Linked DNA regions of Homo sapiens: region 1 is linked to region 2. The links come from fine-mapping of genetic effects on gene expression. A gene starts in region 2. The other region holds a variant in brackets. All regions are shown on one strand. Distances are between the middles of the regions.

Region 1 (2,915 bases), 95 kb after region 2:
TGGACACAAATCTATTTTAAATAGTTAAAATTTATCAAAACTTATACACACAAACACAGACTATACATGACACCATTTGTAGTCAACAGAAAAGTAAAAAAAGTAAGGTTGCAGCATTAAGTCATAAGTGCATAGAGTTAACTGTGCCTACTGTACTATTGCGATAATTTCATAGCCACCCCCTGTTGCTATTGCAGGGAGTTCAAGTGTTGTAAGTATCCACTCAGAACGCCACGTGAGGCTGATCATCTCCATGTGTGCAGTTCATCCCTCCAGTAAATTGTGTATCATAGTAAACACTGATCTCACAGTTCTCATGCATTGTTTGTCATGTTTGCTGCATATCAGAAACCCTAAATAATACCATGGTGCCCATACAAAGTGTCACTAGTGATGCCTCAAGTGCTCCCATGAAGCAAAGAAATTCATGATATTATAATGAAAGTTGAATTGCTTGACATGTACCATAGGTTGAGGACTGCAGCTGTGGTTGGCCATCATTTAAAAAAAAAAAAATGAAACCAGATAAGGACCATTGTTAAAAAAAGAAAAGAAAACTCACTAAGCCATCACTGCAGTGAGGCCAGCAGGCTTCAAACCTTGCACTTTTTCCAAAATACCTTTTTATCTCATATTAAAAATGCAGCTTTTCAATCTCAGTAGACTCCACTGCCAAGGTAGAAACAAGGATATTCAAAGAGTTAATGGATAAAAATATCTAGGATTCCATCCATGGGTTAAAGATTAATAGTGAGAAAGGTCTTTCTGAGAAACTGGCAGATTTTTTTAACCAAGTGAAGACTCTCATATATCCTAAGTGTTTAAGGAGTCTCTTGGTGGTAACAGTAATGACAGCACCACGGTGTGCACAGTCCACACGGAGGAATAAGTTCTTTACAGCCCCATGGGAAGTCCTCTGGACCCTATCAACAAATCCAAGAGCAAAAGTAGAATATTAAGGTAGGAAAACAGTCCAGATTGTTGGGGAAAGCTCACATATTTCAGAAGAAAAAGACTGAAACTAGAGTCATTATATCCATAGATAAGTTGTCAAAGATTAATTCTGTATCATGCTTATCTAAATAAAATTTTATTATAAAAATGCAGCTTTTATGTGGGCACAGGCTTGTTACAAGAAAGGCATACCTACATTCTCTACTATGACCTGAGAAAAACAAAGTCATTATATAACAACACAAAGCTAAATAAAGGTGAAGGATAT[G/A]AAGCTGGAGAATTTAATGGCAGCAAAGAATGGTTTGCTAGTTTTAGGAAGAGGTTTGGCTTTAAAAATGTCAAGATAACAGAAGCCATATGCAGCAGATGAGTTCCCAGAATTCATGAGGAAAAGCTTCGAGGAGAAAGAATATCTGCCCAAACTGGTTTTTAATTCATGCAAAAGTGCCCTATCTAGAAAAAAAAATGCCACAAAGGACATTTATTAGTAAGGAAGAGAAGTGGGCACCAGGATTTAAGCCAGGAAGGGATAGGCTAACTCTATTGTCTTATGCAGATGTTGGTTCCATGCTTCTTGTACAGCCTGCAGAACTGAAGGCTGAACATCTCTTCTTTATACATTAGCCAGTCTCAGGTATTCATTCATAGTAACACAAACAGACTAAAACACCAGGTGCTTGTGAGCAGGAAGAGCTGGTCCGTTCATATCCTGGTGGTGGGATGGCACAGCTACTTGAGAATATTGTTTGGCAGTTTCTTAAAAAGGTAAACATATACCTATCATAAAGCACAGCTATTCTATTGCTAGGTATTTATCCATGAGAAAAAAAAAGAGCATACTTCCTGTATTGCATGTATTTGTTAATTTTCTGTATATTATGATGTTTCCACATCTTAAAATCCCTTTCTGGCTGAGAATGGAGTCCCTTTCCAAGCCAGCCAATTATTAGAGAGAGCAAAGGGCCCAGCCTTATAGCTCAGAGCCCACTGAGATTATCCAAACCAGCCAGTCCTAAACTCTTTCTCCTGCCCTGCCTGTCTTTCCCACAAAAACTGTAATAGGCCATGGTCTAGGCTCTCCTCTTGCTCCTGTCCCTTCTGCCTCTTGCATTTCAAGTCAAAAAGTGTACAAGGTGCCACGGTGCCACAGCCCTTACTTCCGACCTATAGCAGTCAGGGTTCAGTGAGAGAAGCAGAGCTGCTGTGCATACCCATGGTGAGGGATTGGCCAGATGCATGGTGGTAGCTGACTGGATGATCTCTGCAAACTGCCTTGGTGTCTGATGCTGGAACTTAAGGACCCCAGGGTGGGTCTTCAGGCAGGGCAGATGGATGTAAAGTGGGGACAGCGAGGAGAAGCTAGGTCCCACAGAAGGGACTGGAACTCGGGTTGTTTTCACTGCCTCCAACCTTGATGAAGAAGCTGACCTTTCTTGATGACTCCTGTATTAGTTCGTTTTCACACTGCTAATAAAGACATACTTGAGGCCGGGTAAATTATTTTTTAAAAAGAGATTTAATGTGTCCTGGGCCCAGCCCAGGAAACCATTTTTTCCTCCTAAGCTTCTAAGCCAGTGGTGGGAGGGGCTCCCATGAAGACCTCTGATGTGCCCTGGAGACATTTTCCCCATTGTATTAGGGATTAACATTTGGCTCCTTATTACTTATGCAAATTCTGCAGCCTGTTTGACTGCAAACTTTCTGAACCTTTATGTCTGCTTCCCTTTTAAAACGGAATGCCTTTAACAGCACCAAGTCACCTCTTGAATACTTTGCTGCTTAGATACTCACAGCTCCACATGGCTGGGGAGGCCTCACAATCCTGGCAGAAGGCAAAAGGCATATCTTATGTGGTGGCAGGCAAGAGAGAAAATGAGAGCCAAGTGAAAGGGGAAACCCCTTATAAAATCAGATCCCGTGAGACTTATTCACTACGAGGAGAACAGTATGGGGAAAACCAC
Region 2 (2,915 bases):
TTCCCGCTGCTCCGAGCCGGGTATCACTTCCCCCCACCGTTTCTCCAGGAAATCCTCCAAGGGACAGTCGGCTCAAGGAGCCAAATGAGTGAGGGAGGACAGAGCCTGGAAGAAACAAGGCAGTCCAAAAGAAATAAACCCACCAACCTGAGACAAGTCTTTCCTCTTCTTACAGTTGATACCTCCAATGAAGACCATGTTGGGCATGACCGGCCTAGGATATTCAAGCACAAAGTCATATCTTAACAGCCAAACAGAGACCTTCTGATATAAGGTGATTATATCCACATCTCTCTTGAGGACAGCTGATGCGAGTTCTTCATACTTTGAAAACAGACAATAAAATAGATAGGGCTCCAACAAATTAACAAGGAAGTTGGCCACTCGTTGGGAAAAAGTCATGTGGTCTGAAAACTTTGTGTAGCACCTGGGAATGTAGGACACAGGGTCTGGGCTTCTGCTGAATGTATGCTCCAGGGAACACGGAAAACCCCTGAAGAGGTACACAGATGGTAGGCCCAAATACTCAGCCAGGATCACCCCACAGGGTAAGGCTGGGTCTGTGAAAAGAGCATCAAACTTGCTCTCCTTAAAGAAGTTCAGGGTGTCCCTGTCCTGCAGGAGGCTCTGGCAGTTGATGAAGTACAGGCCAATAACAATCATGTTATTCCTGTACTCTGTCTGAGGAGCAGTTAGGAATGATCGCTCAGCAAAGTGATTGTTTCCAAATGATTGGTAACGGTTCTTCAGCTCTTCTTGGTCATACGGCACTGGATAGATTTTTCTTGTGTAGTATTTGGATTCTTTCAAAAGCAAATTAACTTCAGGCACCACCACTACAATCTCATGACCCCGGTCACTGAGAACCTCAACTATATCCTTCATACTAAGCCAGTGGCTTCCGTCCTGAGGGACCACCAGCAGCTTGTCACCTACAACCATGCCCCAAAGTGCTAAGAAGAAAACCCCTGCAGAAATTCTCTGAAATGAGCGAAGGAGGCAGGCCATCCTGGAAAGAGTTAAAGTAACAACGGTAATAAAGAGTTTTCACTCTCCAAATCACAGGGCTCCTAGGTATTTTCCCTAAACTAACCACTGCTTTTCACAGGTCCTGTCTACCTCTCCCTTGCTCTGAATTTTACCCTTTGATATGTAAGAACCCAAATTAATATTTAACCATTTTAATCACATGGTTAATATGAACCAACTATGGCCGTGTCAGCTTTCACCTGAGCTTCTGGGTGTTTCTCTTCAGCTCCACAAGTCTGCTTCTCCCTCTCTGAAAAGTTATAGCAACACTTTGAAGATGACTTGGAGAGACCCCTGAGGACCCCCTGCCAATTCTCTATCCCGAACTTGCTGGATTCCTCATCATTGACGTTGTCTGTTATGTCCATGATGTGCGGGAATTTTTCTTGCACACGGACCTATTCTCTAACACCAGCTGGGTATCCTACAATTCAATTCCATTCTGAACTGAATTCTGAGTTAGCACGGACCCCACAGGTTAAGGGCTCAGTCCTACAAGACTGCCCTCACTTCAGACACCAATTGCAAGTAGTAGGTCCCCAGGTTACCCACAACTTCTGTCTGACTTGGCAAAAATCAGAGGTTCACACACCCTCTTTCTTGGAGTCAATCATTTGCTAGAATGGCTCACAGAACTGAAGAAAACAGTTTATTTACTAGGTTTGGTTTATTACAAAGGATATTGCAAACAATACGGATGAATAGCCAGAGGAAAAAGTACAAAGAACAAGATATGGGGGTATGGCCATGGAGCCCCATCTGCCATCTCTGGGTGCCCCACCCTCCACACCTTCAGCAACCTGAAAGCTCTCTGAACCCTGCCCTTCTGAGTTTTTATGTAGGCTTCCATACATAGTAGGCATGATTGATTAGATTGTTGCCCATCGGTGATCAAATCAATCTTCAATCTCTCTCTCCTTTCTTCCCTCTAATCGCAAGGGTTTTGTTCCCTGGCAACTAGCCCTCATCCTTAGAGACTTTACATCTCCTTTACATAAACTTAGGTGTGATCGAAAGGGATCTGTTTTGAATAACAAAAGATTCTTTGTTCACGTTTATCGCTCCCACCACTTATGGTTTCAGGAGCTGTGTCCAGGAAACAAAGACAAACATATATTTCTTATTATACATCACAATATAACAACATTCAAACTGTTACTTGCCTTTAGGAAATTAAGATTTGAGAAGTATAAGTCTAGCCAGTACGTGGTGAGAATCCTAGAGCAGGAGTCAGAAAGCCTGGTATCTGCTTCTGGCCCAGCCACCCATCTGCCAGGGGAGTGACTCCTCTCCTGAGCTTCAGGTTTCTCAACTGAGGCCCAGAAAGGGAGGGTCACACTGGCCCTGCCTGCTAACCACACTGCTGAGGGCGGTCCCAGAGCAAGACCTGTGTAGAAACTAGGCTGTCCCAGTGAGAGGTGGTACCTTGAATTACTAGAACAGACTTGCCCAGAGCTAGTCATGCACACCTGGCTGGCACGCGAGTTCCTGTTCCCACCCACAAGTTTGGCACCGGAGGTGTTCTGGGGCCCAGGAAGGGAGAAGAAGCCTGAGCAACATGATTAGAGGGGCCACTCCAAGGACAGGGCTGGCCCCCATGGGGAACATAACCAGGATGCAAATTCATTGTTCAAGGCATGCGAAGACTCAGCTCAGTCCAAGCTGGGAGCAGCCTCCCAAGAGGATTGGCAGCTTACAATGATCAAAGTCATGGGGGCGGCAGCATCTTGCTTTGAGTTCATCTAGATAGCAATAAGACTCCAGGAAGGTTGCAAAGGGAACAGAGCTCAGGTCCACCTTCTTGAGCAGGCAGACATTAGGCAGGTTTCCTTCAAAGAACAGTTCATCTAGAGGAAGAATGGCTTAAGCAAGCATGTAGGAATAGC

Direction of the effects. Alleles are on the strand shown, and positions count from the first base shown. SD is a standard deviation of normalised expression in the study named.
For the expression in stomach of the gene that starts at base 1,123 in region 2, allele A in region 1 goes with a higher level than allele G (small effect, 0.35 SD a copy in GTEx).

The links. PIP is the estimated chance that this variant, and not a neighbour inherited with it, causes the effect. A credible set is the group of variants that fine-mapping cannot tell apart.
Region 1: its variant is the best candidate, but not a certain one, in a credible set for the expression of UGT1A6 in stomach (GTEx, PIP 0.51).

What each region holds. Positions count from the first base shown.
Region 1 is chr2:233,596,470-233,599,384 of GRCh38, reverse strand. It overlaps UGT1A. Among named protein-coding and RNA genes, the nearest start is that of UGT1A8, 20 kb to the left of the region's middle. The variant G/A (reference allele first, on the strand shown) is at 1,223.
Region 2 is chr2:233,691,098-233,694,012 of GRCh38, reverse strand. It overlaps UGT1A6 (UDP glucuronosyltransferase family 1 member A6), which reads right to left and starts at 1,123. Exons shown (of 5, transcript NM_001072.4): 1 at 148-1,123. The coding sequence starts at 1,008. The region is part of intron 1 of UGT1A8 (UDP glucuronosyltransferase family 1 member A8); the gene reads right to left. All of the region lies in intron 1 of UGT1A10 (UDP glucuronosyltransferase family 1 member A10), which reads right to left. All of the region lies in intron 1 of UGT1A9 (UDP glucuronosyltransferase family 1 member A9), which reads right to left. It also overlaps UGT1A7 and UGT1A. RefSeq lists enhancers at 1,771-2,377, 2,378-2,915.